Homo sapiens: one gene and its partner. The protein of the gene in region 1 interacts with the protein of each later gene in a pairwise test. Each region holds a gene or a part of one and is shown on either strand. Other genes may lie near its edges.

Region 1 (3,652 bases):
GACATGGTCACCGATAGAAACATGGAAACATCTGCAAACTTGCCGTTACTCGTGTGTCCGATCTGACTGTTTCTTGTATTTTTTTCTAGTCTGCCCTTACTAGGATGAACTGTACACATCAGTTCATCCTTTTTAAATGAGCATGAGGTTATTTTGGGTTGTTAGGTGTTACAAACACACTAATGTGTTTTTGTCTATTAGAGCAGCATGGCCCAGTTGCCAATGGAAGAACTCAACAGAATCCAGGAATACCTTCAGAGCAGCGGGCTCGCTCAGAGGTAATGCTGGAAACACAGGTCGTCCTTGTGTTAGGACAACCCAGGATATAAAGGATATAGATTTGTACGGGAATAAATTCACAGGACAAGAAATCGATGTGCCTTATAGGTGGGTTTACTGCAGAAGTGCCATAATAGAACCTTCCTACTTTTAAAACAACCAGATCTCACTTTCTAAAGAGTAAAGGATGACCGGCAGGATCACGTCTGTGACGTGAGTGGAGGCAGTTTGCACTCCTGGTGGCTGTTTGAGAGGTAGCATTTAGAATGCCTGTATTCACTGTCCTGTGATGAGTGGGAAAATAGGTTATCAGGTTTATCTTAGCAAAATCAAAGCATGTCATCTAATTGCTAAACAAGAGTTGGCAAATCTGAGAGACATTACTCAATCCTTGGCATGCAGGACTTACATCTGCATCCTGTTGCCATTTTATGTCTTCAAAGCATTTAATCATTTAGTTGTGTTTGCAAAGTCTTTGAGAAGCCTTTGTCAGAAATCCCTACATCTCCTATGTGAGTGTATTTCCATGACTGCAGAATAAGTTAAACTTTTACCTTTTTCCTTCCCTTGCGGGGCGGGGTGGGGGGCAGGGATTGTGTGTGTGAGAGGGAGAGAGAGACAGCAGAGAAGGAGAATATAATTATCATGCTGTGTACTTTGAGCTGAAACTGCAAAAAAGGAAAAACACACAAAAATTATTATGCTTTTCAGTCTTTAGAGTACCTTGTCTATTATGCTTTTCAGTCTTTAGAGTACCTTGTTGATGGTGTTTTTAAATGGGATTGGGCACAATTAGGTGGACAGTTTGGGATGATTTTTCAGTCTGTAGGGCCAAGCTCTTTTGTAATTTGCATTATGAAGTTGTCACTCTCATAGCAGATGGCGGGAGATAAACTATTATTACTTTTTGACCCTAGACTTAGTCTTCAGTCCAGATGAGGGAGATTAAAAGATTATAAATATCTTGTGCCAGATGAGGTGATTTTATTTTGAAATGACCATGAATTCCTATCAGTTGTCTTACTGGGATATTTGATAGTGGAATTTGTGCATTTGAGTCTTAGATGATCTGTTTTACATTTATTAAGAAAGCCTTTATTAGCTTTTATACTGTGTATTGCCTGTTGCAGTGTTTGAGTATAAATGAAATTTCTGGAAAATATTAATGGAGTACAAACTGTGATACTTAAAAGTAAACTAGGGCCTGCATTTGTATCATGACCTGTTTGAGTATTGATGAGAAGATAGCTGTGAAGAAAAAGGTTTAAACAAGTGTATTTTCCTTTAAGAAGCCACTAATAGTGCATCTCCTTAGAGTGTATATTTCTAGAATCCTAGTGTGCAGAGTTTAGACTAAGACTAAAAAAAAAAAAAAACAAATTATACTGTAATTTCATTTTTATTTGTATTTTAGACACCAAAGGCTCTATTCCCTGCTGGACAGGTTTCGTCTCTCCACCATGCAAGACTCACTTAGTCCCTCTCCTCCAGTCTCTTCCCACCCGCTGGACGGGGATGGGCACGTGTCACTGGAAACAGTGAGTCCGGACAAAGTAAGTGTCCAGCGTGTCTGCATGGGAGGCACAGGGCGCTGAGTGCCTCTGTCACCTGTGGCAGATACAGAGAGTGCAGAGGAGGTGCCGTGGACCCAAGGAGTTCTGGCGCTCGGCTCGGCTCAGTGAAGCTGTGGTTAGAGACGTGGGGGGCCATCAAGGTCTGAGGGAGCCAAGCAGTGCTGATGTGGGACCCTTTTGGTAGGAGTGTGGGGTGAGTAGTTAGTGGGTGAATCAAGGAATAGTCGGCCGTGGCCTGCAGGCCCCTGACTGCACAGGCCTTCAAGCACATGTCAATGCCGTTAGCCTCCCTCCATCTCCTCATACCTTCTGGCCACCTGTGAGTTGCACTGCCACTGCCAGCCATTCTGGTATGTTGTCAGCACCTCCACTGCTCATACCTCATGGTTAGGGACCACCTGGAGCCTTGGTAGAGCCTTGGTAGAGCCTTGGTACTCTACTTTCCTGGACAAAGTTCAGCTTATGAATATGAATTTAGATTTCAAAAACCAGCAGCCCAAGTATAAGAAAGCGAAGGTTCAGTCCTGCCTTCTTAGGCTCTATTCGCTAAGCACCTGCCCTGCCCTGGTTGCTGGGGAGAGATGAGTAAAGCAGACAACCCAGGAGAGGATGGCAAAGGGGCCGCTAACCCTTAGTGGTTTAGCTATATTTGGAAGGCCTATTGGAAGTTCACCAGGTGAAGGGGGAGGCTGTGAGGGTGCCCAGGCAGGTAACAGAAGTCCAAAGGGGAAAACCTGTGGTGTGGTGAGCCGTATAGCCACAGCCTGCCGGCCGGCAGCCCTCTCAGCCTAGTGCGGTGTTCCCAAGCACTGGCCTAGGCCTGTAGCTCCAGGGATGTGAAGTCCCCTTGAACGCCGCCCATCATGTTCCCCTTATCCATTTTTTTCTTCCCAGGACTGGTACGTTCATCTTGTCAAATCCCAGTGTTGGACCAGGTCAGATTCTGCACTGCTGGAAGGTGCAGAGCTGGTGAATCGGATTCCTGCTGAAGATATGAATGCCTTCATGATGAACTCGGTACGGGGGGAGCAGTGGAGGCAAGGAATCCTCAGCTTTTCTTGTGACTTCCAAGTGGGATTTGTCTCATCATCATGTGACCCACTTGTTGACAACACATGTTGGGGACTCCAGTCTGGGCAGGGACGGGATGTCGGAGAGACTCCACTCTGAATGGGGCCGGGAAGTGGGGAGGACTCCATTTCAGATGGGGTCGGGACATGGGGGTTATGCTGATCGAGACAGAAAAGCACATTGTTTCAGCCACATTAGAATCCACGGAGGTGTTGTTTTGAAATCCAGCTGGCCCCAAGGCTGGGTGTATGGTTTGGGATGAGAACTATCTGGCCTCCACTGGAGGAACAAACACAGGATGTTATCATCTAAGCTCCATGGCCAAGACAGAATGGAAGTCAAGGTTGCGTATTTGCCGTAGACTTCAACACAGTGTCGTAATGCGTGACGTCAATAACTTGTTTCTAGTGTCTTGGAAGTTGATCTTTAGTCGTAAAAGAGACCCTTGGATGCAGCGAGATTTCCTCTACTCACACCTCTGTTAGATGTAGTGAGGTTCTTCACCCCCCAACCCCAGATGTCAGAGGGCACCCTGCGCAGAGCTAGGAGGCCATGCAAAGCCTTGGTGTCCCTGTCCCTCACCCGTGGGCAGGTCCTGTGAGCAGTGGGGGGGCCACCTCTTGGGTATGGTGCAGCCATGGCCCAAGCAGGGCTTCTTCTCAGACCTACTAGGACGGGAGAAACCTCCTGGTGCTTTAGCCCTGCGTTGATATGCAGCAAATGGGAGG
Region 2 (3,081 bases), on another chromosome or scaffold:
ACACAGAAAGACCTTGTCTCTACAAAAAATAAAAAGCTAGCCAGGCATGGTGGTGTGAACCTGTGGTCCCAGCTACTTGGGAGGCTGAGGTGGGAGGATCGCTTGAGCTCAGGAAGTCCAGGCTGCAGTAAGCCGTGATCACACTGCTGCACTCCAGCCTGGGTGACACAGCAAGACTCCATCTCAAAAAGAAAAAAAGAGAGAGAGAAAAAAAAGGGGCTGTTGGCATCTTTGAAGAAGGGACTGGGGGAGCCCTACTTCAGAGCCAGTCAGTGGGGAGCAGCTACATCCTTCAAAAGGAATAGCAGGTGGTGTCCCCCAGCCTGGCTGACCTGAAGGTGTAGTAGAGAGCACAAGGGGTGCAGTCCTGGAACTGGGGCCTAACGAGAGGTATTTGTGGTTCCCCAACAAAAGCCCTGTCCAGCCCTCCCTGCCCCATACACTGCATACAGACATCAAGGCCAGGTGGCTCTGGGAACAGAAGTGGGCGCGAGGCCCTGGGGAAAGTCTGGCTGGGTAGAAGGTCAGTATAGTCCATCTCAGGGTGACAGGTTGTATCACAGGGCCCCAGGGGCCCCACAGGAGACCTGGCAGTCAAGACAACAGGGGCCAGCTTGGCTTGTGTGTGAATCTCTTTATTGTTTCTCTCCAGAGCCCCTGCAGCAGGGGAGGGGAGGGCGTGGGGAGGTGGGCGCCCCTCCCACCAGCCTGAGACCGCTCTCTGCCTCTCTCCTCTCCTCTCTTCTCCAGCATCTCACCCACTTTCTCTCCTTCTCAATCTCCTGCTCCCACCTCCAGCACCTTCGGGGATTCCCTCTTGTAGCCCCTGCTTTCTAAGTCCACCCTGGGCTGGGGAAAGGAAAGTAAGAGACCACGGGGACAATTTCAAGCCCCCCAGTCTCCACAGGGGCTAGTCCCCCTGGCTACCTGCCTGGCTTTCTCTCTCCTGGGCTAGGGGCTGGGGAGGTCTGCGGGGCTCAGTCCTGGCCCTGCAGTATCCCAACACCCTGCTCTGGGGCTGTCTCCAGAGCCAAAGGCTAGTGCCTGAGGTCACAGAGGTGGGAGGGACAGGGCCACCGCTCCCGCCTGGGCTCCATCCAGCACAAGAGCCAGGCTCACTCACTGCCAACAGCCAAGGCTCACAGCTGGGGTCCGCAGAGGTGGCCGGGGCATGCCCTGTGACCAGGCAGGGATGGGCTATGTCGCTGTTGGGGACCACGAGGGATGGCCAGTGAGGAGGGGTCAGAGGCTGTGAGGGGAGGACTGAGGCTGGGTGTGGTGTCCTGGGATGGAAGAAGGCTGGCTTCAGGGAGCAGTGAGGACAGGGGTGAGGACGGTCTCTGGTGGCAGAGGGTCTCTGTCTTTAGAGCACTTCATGCTGCTGCTGTGTGGCCTCACTGACGACCTGGGGAGGAAGAGAAGCCCAGTCCAACCATGTGCTAGCCAGAGAATGGAGCCTCAGCCCTGAGCCATCCCCACCCCAGGGCCGCAGGATCTCTCTTGCCCCACTAGCCAGGGACCTAGACCAGCACAGCTGGGTGGAAGACAGTCCCCCCAGACACATCCATAGCCCCCACCAAGGGTAAGGAGCCCAGACAGACCACTTACCTCCCCATCCCGTGTCTCGATGGTCTTGATCATCACCGTCTTCTTGGTATGGACCTCAGAACCCCTTTGCTCAGGGCTGGTTTCTGTAACAGGGTCCATCGCACACTCAGCCTGACCAAGTCCAGGCTGGGCTATACCAGGGGCTGGGAGTCCATCTGGGGCCACATTGGGCAGAGCCCTAGCAGACCCCAACCCCCCTCAAGACAGGCTTGTTACTTCTTCAAGACTTTAACACCTTTCCTTCAGCCCAGCACCCAGCAGGTGGTTCTGCAGTCCCCAGCGCCTGTCCCATAGTTTAGATGGTCTCAGGAGCCAACAGATTTGCTCCATGTGCAGGATGGTGCAGGAGGGTAGGGGACACCTGAGGCCCAGGCTGCACAGCACTGACATTCCCCATCCCTCCTAGTTCCTCTCCACCCCCAGGCCCCAGGAGAGCCCTGCACACATTTGTCTCCTGGGACTCCCCTTCTTCAAGATAGAACCCCAAAGCCCAGTCTCAAGACACTCTTTAGAGGACCTTACAGTACCTATCTCCCTTTAAGATTTCAGGGCCAGGTGCGGTGGCTCACATCTGTAATCCCAGTAGTTTGGGAGACCGAGGCAGGTGGATCATGAGGCCAGGAGTTCCAGACCACCCTGACCAACATGGTGAAACCCCGTCTCTACTAAAAATACAAAAATTAGGGGGGCGTGGTGGCACATGCCTGTAATCCCAGCTACTCAGGAGGCTGAGGCAGGAGAATTGCTTGAACCTGGGAGGCGGAGGTTGCGGTGAGCCGAGATTGCACCACTGCACTCCAGCCTGGGCGACAGAGCGAGACTCCGTTTCAAAAGAAAAAAAAAATTCAGATGAGCAACTTGATGTCTTAAAGTGAGACAGAGCAGGAATAAGGCACTGACTCATTGTGCTGATGCTCAGTCACTTGCCATTCTGTGCCTCAGTTTCCTCACTGAGGACACGGAGTGAAGTGGTACCAACCTTATCATGGCCACAAAGCTATTGATTTGGAAAAGCACTGTGCAATGTGGGTGGAGTTTTTTGTACTATGAAGTTTTAAATGCAAGACTCATACTTGGTGTCTGTATAAACAACTAACTGAAAAGAGAGGCTCTGAGTTGTGTAGGAAAGGTCAAATGGAGGTCCTTGGTATTATGAGTTTGGTGCTTACGAATTTCCTTAGCTAGCAACCAGCCTGTGATGAATGTTGTGACTCGCTGGAGCGCAGCGTGTTTTTTTTCCTGATGGAAATGTACATCGAAGATAGAAAAGGTTTGATCTAGGAAAGGAGAAGCTGCCAAGGACTCCGACTTGCTTTCCTAATGCATCATTATCGTGTGTTTCTCTGCTCTCTGGGGTTGGAAAGCCACCCGATCTGCGTATTACTAATGTCAAAATGGCAGAGTGCCCTAAGAGCTCGTTCTTTTCATTGTTTGGCTTTGCTAAGATTTGGCATTTTTTTCCAAACGTGCATC

The links. Proteins that work in one complex are often made in the same cells at the same time.
Region 2: the proteins of HTT (region 1) and DES interact in binary tests that used the Homo sapiens proteins (3 or more experiments, as listed by UniProt).

Annotation. Positions count from the first base shown.
Region 1 is NC_000004.12:3,207,080-3,210,731, forward strand, and holds part of HTT (huntingtin), read left to right. Parts: intron 1-201; coding exon 202-278; intron 279-1,693; coding exon 1,694-1,832; intron 1,833-2,747; coding exon 2,748-2,870; intron 2,871-3,652.
Region 2 is NC_000002.12:219,424,273-219,427,353, reverse strand, and holds the end of DES (desmin), read right to left. Parts: intron 1,692-3,081; coding exon 1,609-1,691; intron 1,406-1,608; coding exon 1,364-1,405; 3' UTR 802-1,363; coding exon of another isoform or gene 775-801; 3' UTR 620-774; downstream 1-619. UniProt on the Homo sapiens protein: Muscle-specific type III intermediate filament essential for proper muscular structure and function.